Linked DNA regions of Homo sapiens: regions 1, 2 and 4 are each linked to region 3. The links come from fine-mapping of genetic effects on gene expression. A gene starts in region 3. Each other region holds a variant in brackets. All regions are shown on one strand. Distances are from middle to middle. Region 1 overlaps STK10 (serine/threonine kinase 10). Region 2 overlaps STK10 (serine/threonine kinase 10). Region 3 holds the start of STK10 (serine/threonine kinase 10). Region 4 overlaps STK10 (serine/threonine kinase 10).

Region 1 (7,556 bases), 37 kb before region 3:
CCAGCTGGGTTTCCAACCCTGGACACACTGTGGTGATCAGCACTATCATCCCCGACGTCCAGATGAGAAGCCTGGAGCTCAGAGGCACGAAGAGGCGTGTCTGGGGTCACACAGCAGGACAGGGTGCAGGCAGATTCCAATCCCACTCTGTGCATGATCAACTGAAGGAATGAGGGTGTGAGTGACAGGGTGGGGGGCAGAGGGAAGCAGGGCTGGGAGGTGCCCGGAGAGTACTAATGCAGGGGAAGGACAAGGTCAGATGGTGCACTGACCTGACAGGAAGGGCTACATGGACGTGCTTGGTGACATGGTGGGCGAATCCTGGAATGACAATCACCCTTGCTCCTCTGCATGTGAGATAGACAGCCCAGGCCGGCTATTCCAACAGCGGGATCCCAGCAAAGCCCTCAGTTATCCACCTGCTGCTTCACAGCTCCATCTGCTCTGGGCCACCAACCGCACCCGGGTCACTGCCCAAGGGAGCAGCTGGACAGGTCCCCCGGCACAGGCCTCCTCACCACCAAGCCCTGCCAAAAAACATTCTGCCGGACGATGGCCCCTCAAGTGGAAGGGTGGGGGTCACAGATTACATCCTTTGAACTGTTCCCAGTGATGCCCAGAGCCTGGCACCCAGAGAGGGGCATTCCAGGGGGCAGGAGAGAAGGCTTTGGAGCTAGGCAGACCTGGGCTGGAGCCTGGCTCTGACATGTGGGACGAGCCTCTCCACTCCACCGTTCTAACCCTTGGTCTTCACATCTGTAAAATGGGGGTGACAACATCTCAATCTCGAGCCAGGCGTGGTGGCTCACGCCTATAATCCCAGCACTTTGGGAGGCGGAGGGAGGCAAATCGCTTGAGTCCAGTAGTTGGAGACCAGCCCTGTCTCTACAAAAAATACAAAAATTGTCTGGGTGTGGTGGCACATGCTTGTAATCCCAGCTACTTGGGAGGCTAAGGAGGGAGGATTGCTTGAGCCTGGGAGGCAGAGGTTGCAGTGAGTTGAGATCATGCCACTCCACTCCAGCCTGGGTGACAGAGCAATACAAAAGCAAACAAACAAAACTCAATCCCACAGAACTGTGAGGATTTGGTGAGATAGTCAGGAAACAGCCCACCCGGCACAGGCCTAGCACAGAAAACATTCCTGACGAGGCCAACTATCCACATCATCATGTTGCTGCCTCCTTCCTTTTGTTACCACCCCCTGCCTCCTGATTCACCCTCTAGGCCAAGGAGCTGCCAGCCTCCTCCCCCACTTTCCCTCCCTGAGCCTTAGGGTGTCTGTCCCCTCTGTAAAATGGGCATGTCGATACAGTAATAATACACCCACCTCCAGGGCTGCAAAGCCTGTGCAGACTTTAAAGTGCTTTACAAAGTGCTCGTGTGTGTGTGTGTGTGTGTGTGTGTCTGTGTGTGTGTGTGTGTGTGTCCCAACAACCGGGTGCCCCAATCCAGAGAGAGGGCAGGGGTTGGTGAGTGCCAGGGAGCCCGAGGAAGACCAGGTCCCCACGGCAAATGGAAAGGGTTCTGGCACCCAAAACTGCCAAAAAGGGCTGCCCCAGGCCAGGTGACCACAGATCCAGACTTCAGAACTGCAGAGATACAAGGGCCAGGATAAAATGGGCAGACTCCGTTGAAAGACCTCCTTGGGCCGGGCGCGGTGGCTCATGCCTGTAATCCCAACACTTTGGGAGGCCGAGGCGGGTGGATCACCTGAGGTCAGAAGTTCAAGACCAGCCTGGTCAACATGGTGAAACCTCGTCTCTACTAAATATACAAAAAATTAGCTGGGTGTGGTGGCAGACACCTGTAATCCCAGCTACTCGGGAGGCTGAGGCAGGAGAATCGCTTGAACCCAGGAGGCAGAGGTTGCAGGGAGCCGAGATCGCGCCATTGCAGTCCAGCCTGGGCAACAAGAACAAAACTTTGTCTCAAAAAAAAAAAAAAAAAAAAGAAAGAAAGACCTCCTTGGGATCCTCCCTTCCAAGCCCCTAGAGTTATGGATTAGGAAACAGAGGCCCAGGAAAGGAAGCTCATCTCGGGTCACACAGCCAGTTGGTCCCAGGCAGAACTCAGGTCTCCTAGGCTGGGCATGGTGGCTCACGCCTGTAATCCCAGCACTTTGGGAGGCTGAGGAGGTTGGATCACCTGAGGTCAGGAGTTCAAGAACAGTCTGGCCAACATGGCGAAACCCCGTCTCTACTAAAAATACAAAAATTAGCCGGGTGTGGTGGTGCATGCCTGTAATCCCAGCTAGTCGGGAAGCTGAGGCAGGAGAATCGCTTGAACCTGGGAGGCAGAGGTTGCAGTGAGCCGAGATCACGCCACTGCACTCCAGCCTGGGCAACAAGAGCGAAACAACACCTCAAAAAAAAAAAAAAAGAAAGAAAGAAGAACTCAGGTCTCCTGATTCCAGCCCCAGATCCCTTCTGCCACACTGAACAACTTTCTAAAGTACACAGCACTGTCAGCTACTTCCGGGTGTCACATTCTCTTTACAGTTTTGGCTGTTTTGAGGTCAGATATGCAATCTCTGTCAATGACCAAGGGCTGGCCTCTGAGCCCAGGACTACAAGCCACAAAAACCCTGGCCAGCAACGTGTGGTCATATGGGGACACATGTGGACAGCAGGCTCATCCCATCCATGCCCTGCTCTTGATCCTGGGACCAGTACTTCCTCTTTACAGAATGCTCAGTTTGAGGCAAGAAGCCACACTGAGAAAGGCCCACAGTCACTCCTTCAGGGAGGGTAACCACGGCGCCAGCCAACTTCCTCATCAGGAAGTCTTAGGGAGCGTTCTTGGGCTGGGCCACCCCAAAGGGACTTTGGCTGCTCGCGACAGACCCCTGCCCCACCAAGGGCAGGCACGTCCTGTCTCCTTTCATCTCCCCAGTGCATATCTACCATGGACAGATTTCACACCAGGCCCCGTGCCGGGGACCAAAGAGAACAGAAAGTGAAGGAGAGGCACGATGAAGGTGACAGCTGATACTTACCGAAGTTTCTGTGTGCCCAGCCCTGTTATAGACCTTTTCTATTTGTAAACAACTATTAGCTCAATTATTCCTACAGGCACTACTGTGAAGATCCCCATTCTACAGTTGAGAAAACTGAGGCACAAGGACAGAAGGAATTGGCTCTGGTCTCACAGTAAGTGGCAGGCAGGAGACGGATTGCGAACCTGCAGGCTTCAGAGGCCGACCTTTGCGTTTTTCTTTTTTTTCTTTTTCTTTTTTTTTTTTAATTGAGTCAGAGTCTCACTCTTGTCACCCAGGCTGGAGTGCAATGGCACAATCTTTGGCTCATTGCAACCTCCACCTCCCGGGTTCAAGTAATTCTCCTGCCTCACCCTCCTGAGTAGCTGGGATTACAGGCACACGCCACCACGCCCGGCTAACTTTTGTATTTTTAGTAGAGACGGGGTTTCACCATATTGGCCAGGCTGGTCTCAAACGCCTGATTCGTGATCCACCCACCTCGGCCTCCCAAAGTGCTGAGATTACAGGCGTGAGCCACTGCGCCCGGCCCACTTCACAATTTTATATCCATCCTGATCACTGCTGGAGTTATGTGTTCATGCGCTGTTAGTTGTCTCCCACATGTAGACTGGAGGCTCCATGAGGATGAGGACCGTTTCCCTCTTGCTCACTGATGAATCCCCAGCCCCCACCATGGGGCCTTCCACTTAGTAGCTGCTCAGCAGCATGTGCTGCAGACAGTCTAGCCTCGGTTCACGTTACTCTGCCGCTCTCCCTCCACCACGCGCCAGCCGCAACACCTTCTGTGGGGTCCTCTGCAGACTCCTGCCTCAGGGCCTGTGCACTTCTGATTCCCTCTACCTGGCACTTTCTGC[C/T]CCCACACATTTGGAGGTCTGCCTCCATCTGGTCTTTTGGCTCTCAGCTAAAATGTCACCTCATGAGAGAGGCTTTCTCTGTCCATCGTGTTTACAGCACCTGCTCCTGACCCTACCCAGGAATGCCTACTGCATTTCCCCACTGATTTTTCTTCCACTCACTTGTCACTTGCCCAAGTCCTCTCATCTACTTCTTCACTGGCCTTCATACCGTCTGTTTCTGCCACTAGACTTTGAGCTCCGTGAGGCCAGAGGCCTTCCCAACTCTGTTAATGACATCGAGTTGGTAGCTTGAAACTGATCAGGTGGACATATGTGCATTCAGAAATGGGCCAAATGCCAGACACCAGAGCTTTTCTTCCCAAAGAACTCACTCTTGCTCCTGTAATACATGTTGGAAAAGAGATCCCCCGGCCATTGAAAGATTTGCCCAGAGACCAAAATCTGGCTCAGGGCTGGGGGTGGAGGATGGGGGTAGCTATTAGCAGAGGACATTCACGAGGTCAGCCCAGGCCTTCTTGCAGTCACTCATTTTGGGCCCTGGGAGTCATCTAGAGCTTCACTGTCTATGCCGTCCAATATGGGAGACACTAACACATGTGCTACTGAGTGTTCGAAATGTGGCGACGGTAGAGACCTAAATGTATTATTCCATTCTCTTCTAATTCATTTAAATTTGAAAACTGAGACTTGGTTCAGTTACTGGGAAACGTTTAAGAATGTTGGAACAACTTGGGTGTGTGAATCTACCTTTCTCAACTGTAAATTTTATGACATCTAAACACAGATCAAGGACTTCTGATGAAAATTTAGCTCCCAAATTTAGATGTGTTAAAAGTGTAAAATATACACTGGACTTGAAGACTTAGAATGAAAAAAAGTAAAATAGCTCAATAACTCTTTCAATGGATCACATGTCAAAATGATCATATTTTTATACACTGGGTTAAATAAATTATATTATGGAAACTAATTTCATCTGTTTCTTTTTGCTCTTTTGGATGTGGCTGTTAGAAATGTAAAATTATACATATAGGCCTGGTGCAGTGACTCATGCCTGTAATCCCAGCACTTTGGGAGGCTGAGGCAGGCAGATCACCTGAGGTCGGGAGTTCAAGACCAGCCTGACCAACATGGAGAAACCCCATCTCTACTAAAAATACAAAATTAGCCAGGGGTAGTGGTGCATGCCTGTAATCCCAGCTACTCAGGAGGCTGAGGCAAGAGAATCTCTTGAACACAGGAGATAGAGGTTGTGGTGAGCTGAAATCGCGCCATTGCACTCCAGCCTGGGCAACAGGAGCAAAACTCCATCTCAAAAAGAAAGAAAGAAAGAAAGAAAGAAAGAAAGAAAGAAATGTAAAATGATGCATGTGGCTCACATTATAGTTCTACTGGTCTAGAGCATTTTGGCTTGTTTTTCTCCAACTTGCACCATTTGATATTCAAAAGCAGAAGTAGTGATAAGGAAGCACAGACGGATTTTGCCATGATTACAAATTCTGAACAAAAATGAGCTAATCTTGTCAAATTGCACATGGGGTGGTGTGGTGAATGACCTCCACCCCACTCGGGGGAAAGTCTGTCCCTGTCTGCCATGGCTACAGAAGGGACCTAAGACACTTGGGGAACAGCCAGTTTCTCATCCCAAAGTCCCTGAGAGCAGACCCCAGGTCCAGAACTGGTTTTGTCAAAGATATCCACATGGAAAAGTGGGCTCCTAAAGCCACAGGGGCCCAGGCCTGGTCACAAGATGCGCCTGAGAACCATCACACAGAAGGAAATATCAAAGGGTTGGTGCATCCTTCAACCTGTATCTCTGGACTTCTCCCTTCTACACTTTTGCCCATTTGCTGGTCCCTCTACTTTGACTGTTCTTCCTTCTCTTATCTCCCCAGAGGACTCCTATGCATTCTGCAAGACCCCGTTCAAATGTCCCTTCCTCTGAAGCCTCCCCTGACCAGATGATGTTCCACATCACATCCTTGGGCTTCTGGCCTAGTCTATTCTTACCACTTCTCAAACTGCCTCCACGTTTTTCTCTTGTCCTCTCAAACCTGACTTCTTTCTGTAACACAGAATATGCCTCTCCCCTGCAAAAAAGTACCACTGGGTCTCCATTACCTAAAACAGTGATTCTCAAGCTTAAACGAGCATCAGAGTCACTTAGATTGCTGGGCCCTACCTTAAAACGCCAATTGCTGGGCCTCACCTCAGTTACTGACTCAATGGGCCTCAGGAGGGGCCTGATAACCTGCATGTCTAACAAAGATCCAGGGTGTGCTGATCCAAGGGTTGTACTTTGAGAACCACTGCAGTAAAAGATGGAGGGATAAGTCTTCACCTTGGCATGCAGGGCCTTCTACAACATGGCCCCCAATTACTTTACCACCCTCATCTTTCACCACATGCTGCCCTGGCCCTAGACTAGCCACCTCCCAAACAGGCTGTACCTTTCATGCCTCCACACCGCTGCCCACGCTGTCTCTCCTGCCTGCCATCCTTTCCCCCTCTTTATCTACCCAGCTCCAGGGCCACCTTCCTTGATCTCATAGTGTCTAAAAGGCAAATCGGAGGAGCTGGGGCCTTCTACAAAGTAACAAATGTAGGCTGTCAGGGCAGCTACAATAGAGGAGGGAAAGAAATGGTCTTGGCCACAGCAGTGGGCCTGGAGGAGAAAGCACCAGCCTAAAGTGACAATTTAGGGACGGAAAAGTCTAGCGTATTTATTTAAACAACAGCATGACAGTCGCAGTCTAGTTACAAACTGTGTTTGGCTCTACCTGGTTTTCCAGCTCTGCCACTTGCTAGCTGTGTGGCCTGGGGAGCAGCTCACATAGCTTTTTTGTTTCTCATTTTCTTTTGTAAGATGGGATAAAGCAACAACCTCACAGAATGAAGATTAAACCACATAATGCAAGTGAAACTCATAGCAAAAGGCCAAGCACACAGTAAACTCTCAATAAATGCTAGCTACTATAAGTAGTATCTTTGGACCTGGGAAAGTTATGAACTTGGTACCCAGCCACAATCAATAACAGGAATAGAAACATAATAGCTATTTTTCTTAATGGGTACATAGTCAGCAGGCCAACAAATGCTGTATGCACAGAGAGGAAGATGAATGGACAGAAAGTGGGTGGCTGGGTGGGTGGGTGGGTCAATGGGAGATCTCCTTTGGTTAATATCAAAAGTGGCTCTGTGAGGCCAGTTTGGCAATAGACATTAAAGACTCTTAAAAATTCTCGCTGGGCACAGTGCCTCACGCCTGTAATCCCAGCATTTTGGGCAGCCGAGGCAGGTGGATCTCCTGAGGTCAGGAGTTCAAGAAGAGCCTGACCAAGACGGTGAAACCCCGTCTCTACTAAAAATATAAAAAGCAGCCAGGCGTGGTGGCATGCACCTGTAATCCCAGCTGCTTAGGAGGCTGAGGCAGGAGAATTGCTTGAACCCAGGAGGCGGAGGTTGCAGTCAGCCGAGATCGTGCCACTGCACTCCAGCCTGGAAAACAGAGTGAGACTCCATCTCAAAAAAAAAAAAAAAATTCTCATAAAAAAGCTCTCAGAGGACACACAAAAAAATCCAAAGATGTCCATCACAGAGTTGTTTATAAGAGCAAAATAAAAATAAAAATAAAAAAAAGAAAGAAAGAAAAGGAAATAGCCTAAATGCCCAACAGTAGAGAAGGGCACAGTCAGAAG
Region 2 (7,556 bases), 120 kb before region 3:
CGAAGGAGCTCCTGCTTCTTCATGAGGCACTCGCGCTCCTTGTCACAGATCTCCCGCCTGTTGTCGGTGGTGAGCCTCTTCATGGCCAGCTCCAGGTCCTCCTTCTGCTTGGCTACAAAGTCCCGGTCCTGTGGGGAGAGAGGAGGACAGGCCTTTATCCAGAGCCGGCTTGGGCACCTCCATGTCTCTTCCTATTATGGGAGAAAAGCCCGCGTGATCAGAGAAGAAAATGCAGGAACAGAAAAGAAATTGGTGGAGGAGAAATTTAAGGGAGACTTAGAGACGCATCAACCAATTTCAACATGTGGGCTTCATCTGGATCCTGGATCAAAGAACAGTCTCGGTCTGTCACCAGAGCTGGAGTGCAGTGGCATGATCTCGGCTCACTGCAACCTCTGCCTCCCGCGTTCAAGTGATTCTCCTGCCTCAGCCTCCTGAGTAGCTGGGATTATAGGTGAGCACCACCACTCCTGACTAATTTTTGTATTTTTAGTAGAGACGGGGTTTCACCATGTTGGTCAGGCTGGTCTCAAACTCCTGACCTTGTGATCTGCCTGCCTCGTCCTCCCAAAGTGCTGGGATTACAGGAGTGATTGGAAACTGGAATACTGACAACATGACGTTGTTCAGCAATTATTGTTGAATTTGCTAGGTGTGTTTATGGTATGGTAGTTATTTCTGTGATGTTTGACAGGTAAAATAATATGATGTCTGGGATTTGATTAAAAAGAATACCTTGGGGTCAGGGAGTGAATGAGTGGACATGAGGTGATATTACTGAGATTAGGTGACAGGTATATGGTAGTTCATTATACCTATTCCCATGTTACTTTTCTTTTTTCTTTTTTTTTTTTTGAGAGAGAGTCTCGCTCTGTCACCCAGGCTGGAGTGCAATGGCGTGATCTCAGCTCGCTGCAACCTCAGCCTCCCAGGTTCAAGTGATTCTCCCATCTCAGCTTCCTGAGTAGCTGGGACTACAGGTGCACACCACCACACCTGGCTAACTTTTGTATTTTTAGTAGAGACGGGGTTTCACCATGTTGGCCAGGCTGGTCTTCAACTCCTGGCCTCAAGTGATCCACCCGCCTCGGCCTCCCTATTCCTGTGTTTTTAATTTTCCATAATAAAGGGTAAAAAAAATTAAAATAAAAAAATTTAGAAACCACGGAATTAGTAAAACTCTCCACTCATCTTATCCCCCAGAGTTGGCAGCTGCGGTAGGTATGTCTATACAAGTGTATCTATAGCTATTGTTATTGCTGTGTTACAAAAATTATTAAAAAGGGCTCAAAGAGATATGTGTGCACCCAAGTTCACAGCAGCATTATTCACAACAGTCAAGGGATGAAAACAGCCCACGTGTCCGTCGATAGATAAATGGATAAATCATGTGTTATATCCACACAATGGAATATTATTCAGCCTTAAAAAGGAAGGAAATTCTGACACATGCAACAACATGGATGAACCTTGAGGACATTACGCTAAGTGAAATAAGCCAGTCACAAAAGGACAAATATTCTATGATTCCACTTACATGAGGTACCTAGAGTAGTCAAATTCATAGGGAAAGCAGAATAAAGTTACCAAGGGTTGGAGGAGAAGAAATGGAGAATTACGGTTTGATGGGTGCAGAGTTTCAGTTTTACAAGACAAGAGAGTTCTGGAGATAGATGGCGGAGATGGCCGCACAATGTGAATAGGCTTAACGCCACTACACTGTACACTTAATAATGGTAAAGATGGTAAACTTTATGTTATGACTATTTTACCACAATTTTAAAAAATTATTTTAAGAAATCTTTCCATGTTATAATGTGATCTTCTGGCCAGGTGCAGTGGCTCATGCCTGTAATCCCAGCACGTTGGGAGACTGAGGCAGGCGGATCACCTGAGGTCAGGAGTTCGAGACCAGCCTGGCCAACATGGTGAAACCCTAACTCTATTAAAAATACAAAAATTAGCTAGGCGTGATGGCAGGCACCTGTAGTCCCAGCTACTTGGGAGGCTGAGGCAGGAGAATTGCTTGAACCCAGGAGGCAGAGGTTGCAGTGAGCTGAGATCGTGCCACCGCACTCCAGCCTGGGCAACAGAGTGAGACTCCATCTCAAAAAAGAAAAAAAAAAAACTGGGATGAAACTCCCAGTTTTGAAACTCCGTCTCAGATAAATAAATAATGTGATCTTCTATCACATGTGTTTGAATGGCTGAAAATATTTCATGCTATGGATGTTATTTATCCAATAAACAACAGGGTGTCTCTAGGTTTTATCTATTTTAAATAGCGCTACTTCATATTCTGGTAGCTAAGTATTTGTGAACCTCTGTGATAACTCCTTCAGGATTTTCAGATTCCCTCAGGATTTCTAGAAGCAGAAAATCCAAGCCAAAGGATGTGTACATCTTCAAAGCTCTCCATGCAACTGCCTCCTCCAGGCCAATCTGCTGTCCCTCTGCGTGGATGAGGGCCTGTGTGCCCCGCCCTCACCAGTCCTGCGTTCTCTTCCTAATCGTGCTGTAATGGGACAGACAGGTCATAGGGTGTCCCGGAGAGAACACAAGCTTGAGGCCTCGACCCCCTCCCTGAATGTGAACTCAGCAATGTTACCTCTCTCAGCCTTTGTTTCCTCTTCTGCGAATGGGAAAATGAACAGCTCCTACCATAGTAAGCTATGAATGCTGAAGCAGGTAATATACAAAGCATTTCTAAATATGGACTCAAAAATTCTTTGCTTTGGGGGCTGAGGAAGCAGAACACACAAAGACCCCCTCGTGGGGGAAAATAGGAGCATTCCGGCAAAGGATGAAAAGAAGGCTGGGGAGGCCGGCCAGGGCACAGCAAAGAGGCGGCGCTTATCTTAGGGACAATGTGGGAGCCACTGAAGGGTTTTAAGGCACAGGGCTGTGGGGGGAAGGGTGCTATTATCAGACTTGGAATTCACATTGATCACACGCAGGCAGGAGAGAAGAAACTGCAGGGGAAAAACAGCTACAGGAAGCCTCGCTGGGAGGCCACTGGACAGTGGCTGGGGGATCATGGAGATGGTGACGAGTTCATAGATCCAGAGACAGGAGATAAGAAATATACATACCATGCTTCTGGAGGTGACGAAGGACTGGAGGGAAAGGAGGCGTCAGGAATGATGGGCCAGAAAGGAAGGAAAATGGCACCCCCTCAGAGCATAACAGGACCAGGTCTGGGACATCACAAGTTTGATGTCCTTCAGACTTAAAAGATGCCAAGTGGGCAGGGGAATATACTGGGTTGGTCAAGGAGATGTGACTTACAAATAAATAACCCTAAAACAAGGTAGGAGGTGCTAAGGGTTTGGGAGGTGGTCAATGTAAAGTGTTGGGGTATCCAGAGATGGAAGAGCTTACTTCCAGATGGAGGCAGGGCAATCGAGGAAGGCTGCATGGAGGAGGGGATAATGGGGCCATGAAGGATGAGGCCAGATTTAGGTATTCAGAACGGGGTATTTGAGGGGCAGGGATTGGGCAAAGGCAGAGAGGGGGCCTGGTCACCATTCCAGGTCTCGCACCAGCCCCTGC[G/A]CTCCCCAGCTGAGGCCAGGGACTCACAAGAAGCTGCTTTTTCTGCGTGTGCTCCTCCATCTTCTGCTTCATGCTTTCCTTCCGCTGCTGTCGGGGGAGCTTCTCCACCTCGTTCTTCACCTGCAGCAGAGACAGCAGAGAGTAGCTGGGTCAGGGTCCTCTCCATGCTTCCTACAGTATAATCTTCAACGCAGAACCCCCGGGCCAGAGAAACCAAAGAAGAGGCTCAGCTTTGCAGCGGCCAGCACCCTACGCGGCTCCCCACCAAGCCCCTCTGAGCAGGTGCTCCACACTGGCCTACTCCTGCCTGCCGCTGGTTTCAGCTTCCAACTCCCCCAGAGTGGGCAGGTGCTGTTTTCAGCAGCTTGGTATCCACCCCCCTCTTCTGGTAACAGCACCTCAGTTTCCTGCAGGGAAGTGTTTCTCAACCTTTTTAAAAAATTACAGTCCCTACAGAAGTTCTTTTAGACATTTTTCCCTAATCCCTCTCCCCCCATGAAATACTAGTCCAACAGACAATATCGTCAATCTGACAAACCATTGTCATATTTCAGTTATTTTGCTTCCTTTAGGGTAACACTAGCCGGGCTGAAAATGCACTTTTTTTTTTTTTTTTTTTTGAGATGGAATCAAGCAATTCTCCTGCCTAAGCCTTCCAAGTAGCTGGCATTACAAGTGTGCACCACCACACCTGGCTAATTTTTGTATTTTTAGTAGAGATGGGGTTTCACCATGTTGGCCAGGCTGGTCTCAAACTCCTGACCTCAAGTGATCTGCCTGCCTGGGCCTCCCAAAGTGCAGGGATTACAGGCATGTGCCACCGCGCCTGGCCGAGAATGCATACTTTAGTATCCCCCTTGTCAGCCCCTGAGGTCCAGGTGAACTGACATCCCTACCCCCGCTGGCCCTGGGCTGAGCATCTGATCCAGGCTGGCCAAGCAGCATATTCCATGCCCTTAGCCTCAGGAACTGATTCAGAGATAAGCACGTGACCCTCACTGGTCCAGTGTGAGCTTTGGGACGTTTGCTGGAACTACTGAAGAAAAGCTACCTGCTGTCCTCTGGGGTTGTTAAACTGGAGGGATGAAGGCCAAGGTGAGTCACCTTGTCAGCCCCTGGAGGGGACTGCCTGAGATGAACTCAGCACAGGGAAGCAATGTCCAGAGATGAGAAGAAGAATCCCTGGCAACACTCCTGCCCTCCTGGTCAGACGCCAGCAAGTGTTCTTTCCTTCTTAAGCCAGCTGGGATTGGGTTTCTGTCTTTTATAACAGGAGGGAGAAGAGATCCATGACACTTCTCTCTAAGGACCTTAGAGTTCCTCAGACAGTTCCTTCCCAAGAAACCCACACCTTCACAGGTGCCTAATAACCCAAAACCTGCATTGACAGAGGGCTCTTAAGAGCATCTGATGGGGGGAAAGGCCCGCCTGTGATCAAAAAGAGAGCATTCCAGGGAGTTCTGGCATGGTGAGGTAAGCCAAGACAGGCTGTGTCTCCTGATAATTACAGTGAAAACTCTGCATCAAATATGAAAGCAGCTACTTGAGGACTCTGAAAACCAAACAAAAGCAGGTGGCACGAAGGGGAGTCAAAACTTGCAGACAAGACTGGTACAGGGGATAAGTTTCCTATTTTTTTTTTCACCCTTTTGCTCTCCTGGCTTTGCACCAATTCCAGACCTGCCCAGTAGTGCAGTAGAAAAGCTGGCTAAAACTCTGTAAGAAACCTTGTGTTTCTGGCCAGAGAACCAGGAAAAGAGGCCTGTGCAGTCCAGTGAGTATGGGATGAATCCCAAAGAGAAGGGCACAGAAGGCCAGGCGGAGTGGCTCACGCCTGTAATCCCAGCACTTTGGGAGGCCGAGAAAGGTGGATCACTTGAGGTCAGGAGTTCAAGACCAGCCTTGGGCAACATGGTGAAACCCTGTCTCTACTAAAAATACAAAAATCAGCCGGGTGTGGTGGCACATGCCAGTTATCCCAGCTCCTTGGGAAGGAGGCATGAGAATCACTTGAACTCAGGCGGCGTAGGTTGCAGTGAGCCGAGATCATACCATTGAACTTCCAGCCTGAGGGACAGAGCGAGACTCCGTCTCAAAAACAAAGAGAAGAGCGCAGGAAAAGGGAAATTCCTAACTGTGTGTGTGAACACAGAGATTCACCCCTGAGCTGAGTATGAGTGAGACAGGTGCCAAGCAGTATAGCAAAAAACAAAAAAAGCAAAGACCCAACTAAACTAACACTGAAACCACTACCCACAGAAGATCAGACAGAACCTGTGGTCTGCAGGGTTTCCTGTTAAACAAAAAACATCTACATTCTTCAAAAGATTATAATACGGACCCACAGTCTACAGAACATAACACTGAAATGTCAGGGATAGCCAGGCACGGTGGCTCACACCTGTAATCCCAGCACTTTGGGAGGCTGGGTGGATCACCTGAGCTCAGGAGTTCGAGACCAACCTGGGCAACATGGCAAAAACCCGTCTCTACAGAAAATATTAATACAAAAAACTAGCTGGGTGTGGTGCCAGTGCACCTGTAGTCTCAGCTACTCAGGAGGCTGAAGTGGGAGGATCACTTTAGCCCAGGAGGTTGAGGCTGCAGTGAGCTGTGACTGCACCACTGCACTCCATCCTGGGCAACAGAGCAAGACCCTGTCTCTAAATAAATAAATAGAATAAATAAATAAATAAATAAATAAATAAATAAATAAATAGAATAAAATGCCAAGGAAACAATAAAAAATTACTCTACATACAAAGAATCAGGAAATAGAACCAATTTTCAAAGAAAAAGGCAATCAATAGATGTCAGCTCCGGGATGACACAGATGTTGGGACTGGCAGAAAGAAACTTTAAAGCAGCTATTATAACTGTACTCCATGAGGTAAAGCCCTTTAATATTTCAAGTATGGAAAGATGAAAGTTCACAGCCCAGAAAAACTATTTTTTAAAAAATTAGAAAATTTAAAACTAAACAATACAATGTCTGAAATTAAAATAAAACAATAGTGGAATGGTGATCACAGAGGAGGGTCATTCATTTGAAGACTGATTAATAAAGATTATATAATATGAATGATAGAGAGAAAAAAAGATGAAAAAGAGGAAGGTTTCAGGAACTTATGGGAAAATTATCAAAAGCTCAATGAAACCCAAACAGGTTAAATTAAAAGAAAACCACCCTCATACATATCATAATAAAACTTGAAAACCAAACACTAAAAAAATTCAGGAGAGTAGTTAAGAGAAATGTGACATATTAACACAGGAAAATAATGACTCCAGTGACCATGGATTCCCCAACAGACACTAGGGAGGCCAAAAGCCACCGGAGTATCATCCTTAAAGTGCTGAAAGAAGGGCCGGGCGCGGTGGCTCACGCCTGTAATCCCAGCACTTGGGGAGGCTAAGGCGGGTGGATCACGAGGTCAGGAATTCAAGACAAGCCTGGCCAAGATGGTGAAACCCTGTCTCTACTAAAAATACAAAAAAATTAGCTGGGTATGGTGACAGGCGCCTGTAATCCCAGCTACTCAGGAGGCTGAAGCAGAGAACTGCTTGAACCCGGGAGGCACAGGTTGCAGTGAGCCGAGATCACACCACTGCACTCCAGTCTGGGCGACAGAGCGAGACTCTGTCTCAAAAAAAAAAAGTGCTGAGATAGGTATGTCTAGTGAAACTATCCTTCAGAAATGAAAGTAAAATAAAGACATTTTCAGATGAAGGAAAGTAGGAAACTTTGTGGTCAGGAAGAAAGGCTACATTGGAAGTTCTTCAGGTTGAAAAGAAGTGAGCTGAGAAGAAAACTTGTATCTTCAGTAAAAAAGAAAGAGTGACAGAAATGGTAAATATCTGGATAAACATAATCAACACTTTTTCCCTTAAGATCTTTAAAATCTCAATGACCATTTAAAGCAAAAGTTGTCACATTGTCTGGTATGGTTTTTAATATATGTAGATATAATACATGTGATAGGCCAGGTGTGGTGGCTCACACC
Region 3 (7,556 bases):
CTTTTTTAAAAACTGACTTTCCACGTGCTTTGGAGAACCAAGAGGAGACAGTATCGATTGTGGATCGGATGAGTTCCTTTGTATGAAACTTTCAGAGTAGCAGGGGAGTCTTAAGGGACTAAAGCAGGAGGAAACACAACTGAAAATGACAAGGGGAAATCTTACCAGCATGAAAGCAAAGTTCTGCGTTTAAGTTTAAAGGAAGATGAACCCTGTGAAGCCAGGACACACTGCGGGGAAGGGGACAAGAATGCAATTGAAAGCCCCTAACGGAGAAAAAAAAAAGCCCATATGTTTGTTTTGTTTTGTTTTGTTTTTGAGACAGAGTCTCGCTCTGTCGCCAGGCTGGAGTGCAGTGGCGCTATCTCAGCTCACTGCACCCTCCACCTCCCTGGTTCAAACGTTTCTCTTGCCTCAGCCTCCTGAGACGCTGGGATTACGGGCATGCATCACCATGCCCGGCTAATTTCTGTATTTTTAGTAGAGACAGGGTTTCACCATGTTGGCCAGTATGGTCTGAATTTCCTGACCTCATGATCTGCCTGCTTCAGCCTCCCAAAGTGCTAGGATTACAGGCGTGAGCCACCACGCCCGGCCCAAAAAACCCATATGTTTAGCATACGCTAAAAACACCAACTGAACCTTCTGGAGAAAGTGGGTCCTGTGGTGAGCTGACCACAGGGGTCCAGCTGCCCTCACAGTAGTCAGAGCACAGCTGCAGGAGCAGGCTCTGTCTAAGGCAGTCAAGGACACTGGCAGTGTCCAGAGACAGTTGCAAGGCTGAGGATCGTTCTCTGGTGCCACCAGGAAGAAGATGCAGCTCTGAGGAGAGTAAAGAAAAGACGTGCTGAGGACAGGGTGAGCTGGCTGCCCTCAAATATGGGCAAGGCCCTCAGGCAAAGGAGGACAGCAAGTCGGGGCAGTCCAAAAGCACTGCCTCTCGGATCACAAGACCTCTCCCTACCCCATAACAGGAAGTGTGGGCTCAGAGGGGAGGTGGCAAGGAAACAAAACAGGCACCAGGCCAGGCACAGTGGCTCACGCCTGTAATCCCAACACTTTGGGAGGCCGAGGTGGGTGGATCAACTGAGGTCAGGAGTTCGAGACCAGCTTAGACAACATGGTGAAACCCCGTCTCTACTAAAAAAACAAAAATTAGCCAGGCATGGTGGTGTGTGCCTGCAATCCCAGCTACTTGGGAGGCTGAGGTAGGAGAATTGCTTGAACCCAGGAAGTGGAGGTTGCAGTGAGGGCCGAGATCAAACCACCGCACTCCAGCTTGGGCAATAGAGTGAGACTCCGTCTCACAAAAAATAAAAATAAAAAAAGACACTGAGTGGGCCTGGTTGGTCTCAAAATTGCCACCGCTCCAGGTCAGGCAGGGTGGCTCACCGCTGTAATCCCAACACTTTGGGAGGCTGAAACGAGCTGATTTCATGAGCTCAGGAGTTCATGACAAGCCTGGGCTACGTGGCGAAACCCCAAGTCTACAAAAAATACAAAAATTAGCCGGGCTGTGGTGTGCACCTGTAGACCTAGCTACTCCGAAGGCTGAGGCAGGAGAATTGCTTGAGCCCAGGAGGCAGAGGTTGCAGTGAGCCGAGATCGGGCCACTGCACTCCAGACTGAGCAACAGAGGGAAACCCTGTCTCAAAAAAAAGAAAAGAAAAAAGAAAAAACGCCACCACTCCAAGCCTCTAGGGCAGTACTTCTCAAACCTATTTGCTTAGGAATCACCTGGGATCTTATTAAAACGTAGACTCTAATTCAGCAGGTCGGGGCTGGGCATGAGATTGTTCACTTCTGACAAGCTCCCAAATGATGCTATTATAACACCGGTCATCTAGGAACTACTTCGGTAACTAGGCGATAGACCACTTCCAAGTCAGAGGAGAAGGCCTGGAGAAGCCTTCTCTGTGGTCCAGCCTCATAGAACGGCAATCCTAGGGTCAGAGTGCCCTACAAGCTACAGGAGCCCCAAGGAGGAGGATAGTGGCTTAGAAGAGAGGTGCTCTCCTGGAGGTATACACCAATTTAACAAGTGGGCGTCTCCCAGTAAAAATTTTCTTAGGGGAAAGGGGGGAGTCAAGCTGTAGGTGTTGGCTCCCTAAAACAACTCACCACCTCAGAATTAGCTCCCAGGAGCAGAAACCAACGTCCTGCTGCCACACTTCTCTAGACTCAATCAGCTCTGCCCCACCCACTCCACAAAAGCTCTCTGCCGCGTCTTCCTCTAGGGGAGAGGTGACTGCAGGCTGGGAGACTCCCCAGCTGTGACTCAGACCGACGGAATCAAATCTGTTCCCCCAGGCTCAGCATTCACCAGATCCTGACCTCCCCCTCTGACCAGCCCCAACCCACCTTTCCAAGCCCCACCTCTCAGTCCATGGGCCACCCCTCGCCCACCCCACTTCCCTGTCTCTGGCTCATCTTCAGATGTGTCCCTAGCTCCCAACCCGTCCAAGCGCAGCCGAGTTTCTCGGTCCACATCGCCTCGATATTCCCACAGCATCTGTGGTCTCTCTTAAAAAAAAAAGTGTGCCCGTATCGCCGTTTTACGGAACGTCCCTGGAAGGTCCCTCGAGTGGCCCTCTCGGATGCTGAGGTCCTGTCAACGCCCCTTTGTCTCCCCGTGCGGCGCCGAGCGCAGTGCAGGACACACAGGAAGTGCTCCGAAACAGGGCTAGGGTGGGGGCGGCAACCGTGCCCGGAGGGGGCGCCCAGAGCGCAGGGACTCGGCCGGGCCGAGTGATGTTCCCCCCAAAAAACAAGAGTCATCGGGATGAGGGCCAGGGACCCCGAATTCAGCGCCGGGCAGCCCTCGGAGCCGGAGCCAGGCTGGCCGGGTCCGGCTCAGGCATCCCTTCCTTCCGGAGCCCCTCGACGCGCGTCCGGCCACCCACCTCAGCGCCCTCACCTTGTAAACCTTGCCGAAGGCGCCGTCGCCCAGCTCGCCCACGATCTCCCACACCTCGTTGGGGTCCAGGTCGCGGCGGACGTGCTCATATTCGCGGGACTTTCTCTTCTCGAAGGTAGACAGGCGCAGGATGCGGCGGAAATTGGCAAAAGCCATGGCCGGGGGCGCGGTGGCGCCGGCTCGGGCTCGGGCTCGGGCTCGGGCTGTGGCTTCGGCGGCCGCGAGGAGAAGGAGGAGGAGTTGGAGGACGCCGCGTCTCTCGGGGTTCTCCCCAGACCCGCCTTTCCCCGCAGCCCGACCTCGGTCAAGTGTGCCCTGGGCAGCGCCGCGCCGGGAGCACCCGGAACCGCGCAGGCGGCGGCGTGCCCGCCCCCGCCCCCGCCCTGTCAGGTCCCCAGGGCCGCCTCCCTTGTGCCGGCCTCGCAGCTCCTGCCCGGCCCAGCCCTGCCTGCGAGAGCCTCGGACCCGTTCCAGGGGACCGTCCCCGCGCCCGCCCACCGGCCCGGCTCCACCCGCCGCTCCCCGGCAGAGCCCCGGGACCCCCTAATTGGCTGCGGGCGCTCCCCGGCTCCGCCCGTCGCCGCAGGGCACTCTGGAAACTGTAGTCCCCCCACACCACGCTCCGCGAGCCGCGGGCTGGGCTTTGGGGAAGCTTCGGGGACCGCTCGGTGGGACCGCTCATGGACTCAGGAGCCCGCCCGCCGCGCCGCGTGGCTCCCAAAACTTTTATGGGAGCAAGCGGGACGGCGACTTGGCATTTCGCGAGAGCCCACGGATCGTTGTCAGCGCCCAGAAGGTGAACCTGCACTCGTTCATTTAATCCTCCCGCAGCTATTCCGCTAGGCTGCCCTCGCCCCCACTTTTCCGATGGGGACGCCGGCAGGCGAGGGCACTCGCCCCAGGCACACACGCTGGCTGCCCGTCTGCTGCGGGTTCCTCGGCGCGGTGCTGCCTCCTAGTGTGCGACGGGCAACGCCGGTGCAGCCGCGGCCAGTCCCTGCAGGGCCCGGCTTCCCGGCGCGGTCCTTTCCAGGGGCTCCCCGTCCACGATCCACAAACCTGCCAGGATTAGAGGGCTGGGAGAAAGAGCTCCTTTGGCACTGATTTCTCTTATGTTTCCTGATGGGTTTGCGGATGTATTTGCATATTAAATAAAAACTTTATTCTAATTTTTAATTTCCTAGTTTCAAAAAAGATGAGCGCACTACATACAGATCAAACTAAAGTCTTCTTTGAGCACCTTCATTCTCGATCCTGGCTACTTGAGTCACTTCACTGCTACTGTTGCCTGTTTGTCCTATAGACGGTTATAACATGCTTTTACCTGAATCTAAGGAGAGTGCTGGGGGTGGGGGGGGGGGGCGGGCAGTCTGCAAGGGTTATTATTTGGACCGTGTCATAAACAAGTTGAGTCTTCGCAAATGTCACAGTTCAATAGCTCCAACCCCAGAGAACGGCTGTGTTGAGGTGTTTTCGCCCCTTCCTCGGTGCTTTGTTCGAAAACATCCTTTGAACAGTGTGCAAACACCAAGCATGGTTTTCCACTGGGAAAGCCAGCTCAAGAAGCCTGCGATGCTGGTAGTGGTCGGCGCAGAGGGTGTCCTGGTTGCTAAGCCGTTCGGAATGTTTCCACAGCTGCAGGAGTGCCTGGAATTGTAGAGGGTCTTTAAAAGAAGGAAACGCCGCTCGTCGCTGACCGTTCTCATTGAGTCAGGCGCTGTCTGAACCTCCCAAAACATGCTGAAAGGCAGGTCTTTCATTTGTTTCAGACCATTTGGCCAACTGTACGAAGCGGGTGGGGAGACCAAGAGGGTTGCTTCCATACTAGGAGATGAAGGCTCTGACTCCACGAAAGCTGTAGGCCTGGAGGGCTCTGACCAGCTCTGAGAGCTCCAGAAAAGCAAGCAAGCGAGAGAAAGAGAGAGAGAAAGGAAAGAGAGAAAGAGAGAAAGAAAGAAAGAGAAAGGGAAAGGAAAGGAAGAAAGAGAGAAAGGAAAGAGAGAAAGAGAGAAAGAAAGAAAGAGAAAGGGAAAGGAAAGGAAGAAAGAGAGAAAGAAAAAGGAAAGGAAGAGAAGGAGAGAGAAAGAGGGAGGGAGGGAGGGAAGGAAGGAAGGGAGGGAGGGAGGAAGGAAGGGAAAGAAAAACGGAGAGGTTCATTCATTCAATAACACTAAGTCAAAGAAGCCAGACACAAAAGGCCCTGTGTTCTATAAATTTCCATTTATATGAAATGTCTGGAAAAGGCAAATCCATACAGACAGAAAGTAGATTAATGGTTGCCTGGAGCTGGGTGTGAAATGGGAATTAACTGTACATGAACAATAAACAGTCTAATTGGGGTGATGAAAATGTCCTAAAACTGCACAATGGTGACAATTTCATAATTTGGTAAATTTGCCAAAAATAATTGAATTTTAAACTTTCATTTTTGTAAATGGATGAATTTTATGTGTAAATTATACCTCAATAGCATTGTAAGAAATACATTGAGGTTCAATAGAATCAAAGCTACTTCTTTGAAATAACTAATAGACAAGACTAGTCAAAGAAAAAGAAAAAAAGGGTCGGGCACGGTGGCTCACACCTGTAATCCCAGCATTTTGGGAGGCCAAGCTGGGTGGATCACCTGAGGTTAGGAGTTCAAGACCAGCCTGGCCAACATGGCAAAACCCCAGCTCTACGAAAAATACAAAACTTAGCCGGGCGGGGTGGTGCACGCCTGTAACCCAAGCTACTTGGGAGGCTGAGGCAGAAGAATCACTTGAACCCAGAAGATGGAGGTTGCAGTGAGCCGAGATCGTACCATTGCACTCCATCTAGCCTGAGCAACAGAGCAAGACTCCGTCTCAAAAAAAAAAAGAAAAGAAAAAAAAAAAATTGGTGCAAGAAAGAAATATTCACTGGAAGAAATAAAAAATGAAAAGAGAACATCAGATTAGATACTGTAGAAATTTTGATAATCATAAAGTGATATTTTAGACAAATTTATGTGAATAAATGTTTTAATTTACATAAAATGGGTAATTATTGAGAAGAAAATATAAATGATAGGTAAAAGATAATTTCAATAAGAAATAAAAACCTAAATAAACTAGTAACCAATAAAGAAATCAAATCAAGAATCAGGCCGGGCACAGTGGCTCATGCCTGTAATCCCAGCACGTTGGGAGGCTGAGGCGGGTGAATCACCTGAGGTCAGGAGTTCGAGACCAGCCTGGGCAACATGGTGAAACTCTGTCTCTACTAAAAATACAAAAATTAGTCGGGTGTGGTGGTGCGTGCCTGTGGTCCCAACTACTCATGAGACTCAGGCACAAGAATCCCTTCAACCTAGGAGACGGAGGTTGCAGTGAGCCGAGATCACACCACTGCACTCGAGCCTGGGCAACACAGTGAGACTCTGTCTCTAAACAAAAACAAACAAACAAAAACCCAAAAAACAACAACCACAAAAATCAAGAATCAAAAGCTTGTTCTTGGTGAAAGACATCAGTCTGTGTGGTTTTACAAATAATTTCTTTCTTTATATAAATTATTTTAAAAGATAGAAAATGAAGGAAATCTGCCAATTTATTTTATAAGATGAGTTTTACTATTACTAGATAAGGACAGTAAAAGAAAATTGTAAGCCAGGCACAGTGGCTTACACCTGTAATTCCAGCACTTTGGGAGGCTGAGGTGGGAGGATCACTTGAGCCCAGGAGTTCCATACCAGCCAGAGCTATAAAGTGAGACCCTGTTTCTACAAAAAGTCAAAAAATTAGCCAGGCGTGGTGGTGCACACCAGTGGTCCCAGCTACTCAGGAGGTTGAGGCAGGAGGATTCCTTGAGCCCAGGAGGCCGAGGCTGCAGTGAACAGTGATCTCACCGCTGCACCAGCCTGGTCTCCAGTGAGACCCTGTCTTAAAAAGGAAGGGAAGGAGAGGAAAGAGAGAGAGAGAAAGAAAATTGTAGACTAATTTCATTTCATTTTTTTTTTTTTTTTTTTTTGACAGAGAGAGTCTTGCTGTGTCGCCAGGCTGGAGTGCAATGGTGTGATCTCACCTCACTGCAACCTCCACCTCCCAGATTCAAGCGATTCTCCCGCTTCAGCCTCCCAAGTAGCTGGGACTACAGGAACGTGCCACCACGCCCGGCTAATTTTTGTATTTTTAGTGGAGATGAGGTTTCACCATGTTGGCCAGGATGGTCTCAATCTCTTGACCTCGTGATCCGCCCGCCTCAGCCTCCCAAAGTACTGGGATTACATGTGTGAGCCATCACGCCCGGCCTAATTTCAGTTCTTAAAAAGACAGGGAAAATACAAATGCTAGCAAGATCAAACCAGAGGTGAATAAAAATATCGTAACCACAAAAGGTTTATCCAGGAATAAAAGAATGGTTCTACATCAGAAAATCTACTGTAATAGCACTGCATTGGCAGAGTAAAGGAGAAAAATCACATAGTCTTAATAGTCACAGAAAAAGCATTTTATAGTATTCTTAGGTTGGATTCCCTTAGAGACTGACCCTGAGGCAAGGATTTGAGTGTAAGTGGTTTATTTGGGAGTGAGTAGGGAGTAGAAAATTAAGACAGAGGAGGGGCTGGGCACCATGGCTCACACCTGTAATCCCAACACTTTGGAAGGCTGTGGTGGGA
Region 4 (7,556 bases), 55 kb before region 3:
CCTCATGGGAATGATAAGCTCATCCAGGCCTTGACACGTGCCTGGCCCCAGGTCGGGACTCAGTTATGTGAGCTGTCACTATGATTCTTTCCTTGAGTTCATGGGTCTGTTTTTCTCATTTATTTTTGTTTGGGTTTTTTGAGGCTCTGTGAAAGCCATCCTCTCCCCTCTCACCCAGAAATGTTCCTGTGCCATTCTATTGAATCCTTCCACATCCTGAAGTTCCATCACCAAACCCTGGCTGGGAACCCCTGGTTAGCCTCCCTAACACCTACCATCTGTATGGCCTTGGACAACCGCCAATCCTCTCCGTAAAATGGGCTAATATTACGTGGCTCTAGGATTTACTGTAAGGAACAGATGAGGTGGTACTTATAAAGACCTAGTCCTAGGCTGGGGGCAGTGACTCACTCTTGTAATCCCAGCATATTGGGAAGATGAGGCAGGCAGATCACCTGAGGTCAGGAGTTCGAGACCAGCCTGGCCAAAATGGCAAAACCCCGTCTCCACTAAAAATACAAAAAGTAGCCAGGTGTGGTGGCGGGCACCTGTAATCCCAGCTACTTGGGAGGCGGAGGCAGGAGAATCACTTGAACCCAGGAGGCGGAGGCTGCAGTGAGCGGAGATCACACCACAGCATTCCAGTCTGGGTGACAGAGCAAGACTCTGTCTCCAAAAAAAAAAAAAACCGAAAAACCCAGTCCTAATACACCGTGGATATGTAACAAGGTCAGACACTTCCCGCTTCTCCAACAAGGTGCCAACACAGAGGAAAAGATTGTAAACCTGGGGTCGAGTCCTGGTGTGCCACTTAATTGACTACATGACCCTGGATAAGTCAATCTCCCTGAGCCTCCATTTCCCCATCTGTAAAATGGCCTAATCATCTCTTGCCTCCAACTTCATTGAGAAAGTTAAATGAGATTCCTTACATGAAAGAACAGCACAAAAGCCACACAGTTAATATGTGTTTGTTAAATCTCTACCAAATGAAATCACCAGTAAGTTTCATGCTTAGATCACGTCACTTAGGATTCCTACAAAAATATGCCTTCCTCTCAGTCTGATTCCTAGGGAAAACAAAACAAAACAAAGAAATGTCTTCCCAGAACTACAATTTCTTTATGTATTTATTTATTTTTGAGAACTAAAAGTTATGGACATGCCATCAGCTGTTTTTTTTTTTTTTTTTTTTTGACAGAGTCTCACTCTGTTGCCCAGGCTGGAGTGCAGTGGCGCGATCTTGGCTCACTGCAAGCTCCGCCTCCCAGGTTCACGCCATTCTCCTGCCTCAGCCTCCCGAGTAGCTGGGACTACAGGCGCCCGCCACCACATCCGGCTAATTTTTTGTATTTTTTGGTAGAGGCAGGGTTTCACCGTGTTAGCCAGGATGGTCTCGATCTCCTGACCTCGCGATCTGCCTGCCTCAGCCTCCCAAAGTGCTGGGATTACAGGCGTGAGCCCCCGCGCCTGGCCTGTCATCAGCTATTCTTAAGAGTCAGTATGAGAAGTGACCAAACCCAGGCAGTTCCTGCATCTTTCAGTGAAACTGTCCCTTACACAACACTCTTATACAACGTCCCTGTGCCCTCTCCAGAGGTCAGCACCAGGAAAGCTCGTGCATTCTGACAACCTGGCTTGCTTCCTCTTCTTTAGTTCAAGAGCTCCACAACCCCTTGAGCTTCCCTTTTATTTATTTATTTTTTTGCCTTGGCTGCTGGGAAGCTCTGGGTTAAGTTCCTCAGCTTTGGTTTGACTCCCAGGCCTTACTTGCTTTTTTTAGTATCTGGGTCTTAACATTTTTACCTTCAGCTTATCAGTGGCAGGAGGGCTACAGGGGATTGGTATTATAAACTTGTCAGGGCTTTTTGCAGAAATACATGGGGTTTAATTAATAAAACAATAGTCTCAACAGTAACAGATAAAATAATAGTTGAATGTATCTCCCAAAAGGCATGTGTTGGAAACTTAATCCCCAATGTAACAGTGTTGGGAGGTGGGACCAACAGTAATGGGAGGTGTTTAGACCATGAGGGCTCCACCCTCATGAATGAATTAGTGCTGATTATAAAAGGGCTAGAGGCTGTGAGTTCAGTTGCTGGCTCTCTCCTGCATGCCCTCTTGCTCTTTCCACCTTCCACGATGGCAAGAAGGCCCTCGCCAGATGCAGGGCCCTCAACCTTGGACTTCCCAGCCTCCAGAGCCATGAGCTAGATAAATTTCTATTGTTTACAAATTACCCAGTGTCAGGTATTCTGTTATAGCAGCATAAAATGCACTGAGACGATGGTAATAAATATGAATAAAATAATAATCTCAATGCTTTAGGAAATTACTACATATGCATGCTTAGAAAAAAGACTGGAAGCACAAAACCCATAGGAGGATTACAGGTAGTTTGTACTTTTATGTATTATATTCAATAAATATGTATTATCAAATTGTATATTAGAAATAAACATGACTTTTAAATTTTTAATTTTTTTAATTTTTTTAATTCAACCTAGGGGCTTTAGTTTTTTTTTAATGGAAAGAACTGGCCTAGAATAACCTACTGCTACAGATACAGCTATTCTTCTGATTGGGATGGGGAATCCGTGCCCACCCGTGATGAAGGTCCCAGTGGTCCAGTCCCCTGCTTCCTGGATAAAGGGAGGCTCCTCAGGATCGGAAAGCTAAAGGCCTCTAAGCCCTGATCAAGTCCAAAGTGAAACCGCCCCAGTGCTAAAAGGACGGATTCCCTGAACCTGTCAAGGGCATAAGCAGCCTATATTTGCAGGTGGCTCACGGTTTTCCTAGGACCTGAAGAACTGAGATTTGTGGTCAGTTTAATGCATTGATCATTATAAACTGAGTGTCTACCAGGGGCCCTACTTTGCTAGGCAACAGTAGGGGACACAAAAGTAGTATGTGATCAACAAACACTATCTGAGCTCCTAGTGCGTGGCAAGCCTGGGGACTGAGGACCCAGGGAGAATCAAACAGGTCCCTGCCCCAAAATCACCAGCTGAGGGAGATATAGAAATGAGTGGTGCAGGCACACGGTGACTATGTAACCCAGAAGCCTGTGGACACGGTCATTAACCTGCCTTAGAGCTATCCCAGAGGAAGCAGATATCCAGGCTGAGTTTTGAAGGGTGAATTTACCACGTGGGGAAGGGTAAAGGCACTCCTGGCAGAACACAGAAGCAGAGGTGGGGCAGCAGGGAAAAGCGTGGAAGCGGGTAATGGCGGAGCATTCCATGGGGTTCCAAAGGATGGGAATCCAGCAGGCTGGAGGTCAATTAGAACTAGAACTTGAACATCTCAAAGTATGAACCTAATCTGGAGAGCTGTGTGTGCGTGTGTGCGTGTGTGTCTGGGGAGATACACCAAAGGGTTTAAGCAAGAGGTGTTGTAGACAGGCTTTTGCTTTGGAAAGATCCCTCTAGATGCATTATTAAGGAAAAAACAGTGGGTTGGGGACAAACAGCGAAGAGGCCATTTCATGAGTCCTGATGTCCTGGGCACCATGGCTACCTCCCCCTCCACATACACCATGTCTTCCTTCCCCTTTGTGAAATAGCCATGAGAACTGGGTAGGACTTACTCATCCCCTGCAAGGGAGGGGTAGAAGCAGGGTGCTAAGCCAGTCAGGAAAATTTTCTGCCTCGTGCCCTGACTCAGGGCTGGTGTCATCAGAGCTAAGCTGGTGAGTTGTGCTTGATGG[T/C]GTGGAATGCCACGTCGTCTCACTCTGGAGCTAATTAGGAAGCACACAACTCTGATGGTTGCAGGAAACCATGTTGCAACCACGAGAGAAGTGGGTGTGAAGACAAAGCTAATACACAGAGGAAGACAGAGAGAATCACAGGAAAACGGAGAACAAGCCTGCTCCCTACTGACTTTTTAGGCAGAATATGCAAACGAATTAATTTCTGCGCTGTTTAGTAGGTTAGTTTAAGGTTTGCTGTCACTTGTTACCAAAAGTACCTGATCCCACGCTTGGCAGGAGATGATGAGTAACCACACTCTCCAGGTGGCAGACTCCAGGTTGTACCAGCTGAAAATGCTACACCAACGGCTCTCCAACTTGAACGTTCAGCAGAGTGCTTGTTAAAACAGATCACTGGGTCCCACTCCAGAGCTTCTGATTCAGTGGGTCTGAAGCAAGGTCCAAGAATCTGGTTTCCAACAAGTGCTCAGATGCTGCTGCTGTTGCTGGACCCCTGGTCACACTTTGAGAACTACTGCTCAATGGGAATTTATAAGAGCAAGAGGCCTGGACCCTGGGACCACATCTGTCCTCCCCTTAACAAAAGGCACTGTAAGATGTTGGTAGAGAAACTTGGGGGCAAACTGGCAGAAGTACTGCCTCTTTTATGCTCCTTGTTATCCTAAATTTCATCACCAGTGTTCCTTTTTATCTTGCCTCAAACCAAAGAGTGAGGGGCTTTGGTAGGATGTATGATCATCCTCATCAGCCTTTACCAAGAGATGGTTTGAGAAGCCCTGAGTATTCACACAGAAGCTTTGGGGATCTTCATTATTAAAGACCGTACTGCAGTCTGTTTCAATGAGTTTTTTAAAAAAATATTTCCATATCCTCCCATCTTTAAATAAAAATTTTGAGGACCTCTAAATATGTGTCAAAGGGTATATGGGGGTTAGTAAAAGACCAGATGGACAAAAATGACACCAAAAGCACAAGCAACCAAAGAAAAAATAGATACCCTGGACTTCATCAACATTGAACATATTTGTGCATCAAAGGACAGTATCAAGAAAGTAAAGGCTGGGTACAATGGCTCACGCCTGTAATCTCAGCATTCTGGGAGGCTGAGATGGGAGGATCACTTGAGCCCAGGAGTTTGAGACCAGCCTGGGCAACATAGGGAGACCTCATATTTACAAAAAAAAAAAAAAGGAAAAAAATTTTCATTAGCGGGGTATGGTGGCACACACCTGTGGTCCCAGATACTTGGGGGGCTGAGGTGGAAGGATCATTTGAGCTTGGGAGGTCGAGAATGCAGCGTGCAATAATTGTGACACTGCACGCCAGCCTGGGAGAAAGAACAAGACTTTATCTCAAAAAAAAAAAGAAAAAGAAAAAGTAACCCACAAATGGAAAATATTTGCAAATCATATATCTGATAAAGGACTAGTATCCAGAATACATAAAGAACTCATAGCACTCAAAAATAAAAGAGCAAATAACCCAATCTTAAAATAGGCAAAAGATTTGAATAGATGTTTTTCCAAAGAAGATGTACAAATGGCCACTAAGCATATGAAAAGATGCTCAACATTACTAGTCATTAGGGCAACACTAATCAAAACCAAAATGAGATACCACTTCACACATGCTAGAATGCTCAGAATTAAAAACATGAACAAGGCTGGGCACGGTGGCTCACGTCTGTGATCCCAGCACTTTGGGAGGCTGAGGTGGGTGGATCACCTGAGGTCAGGAGTTTGAGACAGCCTGGCCGACATAGTGAAACCCTGTCTCTAATAAAAATACAAAAGTTAGCCAGGTGTGGTGGCACACGCCTGTAGTCCCAGTTACTTAGGAGGCTGAGACAAAAGAATCATTTGAACCTGGGAGGCGGAGGTTGCAGTGAGCCAAGATCACGTCACTGCACTCCAGCCTGGGAGACAGAGCGAGACTCCATCTCAAAAAACAAAAGATAAACAACAGTAAGTGTTGGCAGGAATATGGAGAAATTGGAACCTTCATACACTGATGGTGGTAATGTAAAATGTGCAGTCCAGGCACTTTGGGAGAGTCCGGCAGTTCCTCAATATGTTAAACGTAGCATTACTATTGATCCAAATGGCAATTCCCTCCTACATATAGATCCAAAAGAATTTTTAAAATATGTTCATTAGCTAAACAGACTAAGTTAAAAACTCAAATTATGGCCAGGCACGTTGGCTCACGCCTATAATCCCAGTGCTTTGGGGTGGATCACCTGAGGTCAGGCATTCAAGACCAGCCTGGCCAACATAGAGAAACCCTGTCTCTACTAAAAATACAAAAATTTGCCAGGCTTGGTGGCACACGCCTGTAATCCCAGCTACTTGGGTGGCTGAGGTATGAGAATCGCTTGAACCCAGGAGGTGGAGGTTGCAGTGAGCCGAGATCACACCACTGCACTCCAGCCTAGGCAACAGAGTGAGACTCTGTCTCAAAATAAATAAATAAACAAACAAACAAAAGAAAGAAAAAGAAAAAAAGAAAAAAAAACCTCAAATTACTACAATCAGAAATGAAAAAGGGGACACATTACTACTGATTTGACAGAAAGGACTATCAGAGAGTACTATGAACAACTGTATGACAACAAATTGAATAAACTAGATGAAATAGAAAAATTCCTAGAAACACAACCTGGCAAGCCTGGATCATGAAGAAACAGAAGACCTGAATAGATGTAACTTCTAAGGAGACTGAACAGTAATTTAAAACCTCCACACAGGCTGGGCGCAGTGGCTCACGCCTGTCATCCCAGCACTTTGGAAGGCCGAGGCGGGTGGACACGTGAGGTCAGGAGTTCGAGACCAGCCTGCCCAACATGGTGAAACCCCATCTCTATTAAAAATACAAAAACTTAGCCAGGTGTGGTGGCAGGCACCTGTAGTCCCAGCTACTCGGGAGGCTGAGGCAGGAGAATGGTGTGAACCCAGGAGGCAGAGCTTGCAGTGAGCCAAGATCGCGCCACTGCACTCCAGCCTGGGCGACAGAGCGAGACTCCGTCTCAAAATAAATAAATAAATAAATAAATAAAGTAAAGAAGTGAAAGAATAGCTATTCCATAGGCAGAGCATGGCATTCCAAAAAATAAGAGGAGGAATGTGCCCACCTAGGTACAATGCTTGCTTATATATAACAAAAATCATGGAGGAGATGTGCTCTACTACAAGGGTTTGTGATAAAGGATTGCTAATCTTTGTGTAACTACTGTCTTTCATGAGAGCCTTTATTATTATCTATTTTTTTTTTTTATACTTTAAGTTCTGGGATACACGTGCAGAACATGTAGGTTAGTTACATAGGTATACACATGCCATGATGGTTTGCTGCACCCATCAACCCATCATCTACATTAAATATTTCTCCTAATGCTATCCCTCCCCTAGCCCCCCACCCCCGAACAGGCCCCGGTGTGTGATGTTCCCCTCCCAGTGTCCACGTGTTCTCACTGTGCATATATTATTATCTTTAAAGTGAGACTTATTTTAAAACTAGGAATGTTTTTGTTCTTAAGATATAAGGACATCAGGACAGTTCCTGGGTCTGTTATATCCTGGGTCTGTTTCTGTTCCCTTAACTATAAACGTCTTAGGGCTAAGAATACCTAACCTCTTGAGAATGTGGCCCAGCAGGTCTCAGCCTCATTTTACCCAGCCCCTATTCAAGATAAAGTCACTCTGGTTTGAATGCCTCTGACATACTGATGCAAAGATACTCAACAAAATACTTGCGAATCATATTCAACTATTAAAAGAGAGATTACACCATGATCAAGTGGGATTTATTCCTGGAATGTAAGGATGGTTCAACATTCAAAAATCTA

What was found.
Region 1: its variant is fine-mapped to the expression of STK10 in whole blood (GTEx, PIP 0.92).
Region 2: its variant is fine-mapped to the expression of STK10 in whole blood (TOPMed, PIP above 0.99).
Region 4: its variant is fine-mapped to the expression of STK10 in monocytes after LPS (Quach 2016, PIP 0.95).

The regions. Positions count from the first base shown.
Region 1 is chr5:172,148,115-172,155,670 of GRCh38, forward strand. The region is part of intron 2 of STK10 (serine/threonine kinase 10); the gene reads right to left. Among named protein-coding and RNA genes, the nearest start is that of STK10, 36 kb to the right of the region's middle. RefSeq lists enhancers at 2,694-2,753, 2,764-2,973 and a silencer at 3,458-3,633. The variant C/T (reference allele first, on the strand shown) is at 3,856.
Region 2 is chr5:172,061,141-172,068,696 of GRCh38, forward strand. STK10 (serine/threonine kinase 10) reads right to left here. Exons shown (of 19, transcript NM_005990.4): 13 at 3,580-3,672; 14 at 1-128. Among named protein-coding and RNA genes, the nearest start is that of FBXW11, 58 kb to the left of the region's middle. RefSeq lists an enhancer at 5,629-5,678. The variant G/A (reference allele first, on the strand shown) is at 3,553.
Region 3 is chr5:172,184,970-172,192,525 of GRCh38, forward strand. It overlaps STK10 (serine/threonine kinase 10), which reads right to left and starts at 3,255. Exons shown (of 19, transcript NM_005990.4): 1 at 2,918-3,255. The coding sequence starts at 3,073. RefSeq lists enhancers at 1-37, 1,078-1,127, 1,398-1,447, 2,108-2,187, 3,240-4,015 and silencers at 2,648-2,727, 2,858-2,907, 3,208-3,567.
Region 4 is chr5:172,129,858-172,137,413 of GRCh38, forward strand. The region is part of intron 2 of STK10 (serine/threonine kinase 10); the gene reads right to left. Among named protein-coding and RNA genes, the nearest start is that of STK10, 55 kb to the right of the region's middle. The variant T/C (reference allele first, on the strand shown) is at 3,710.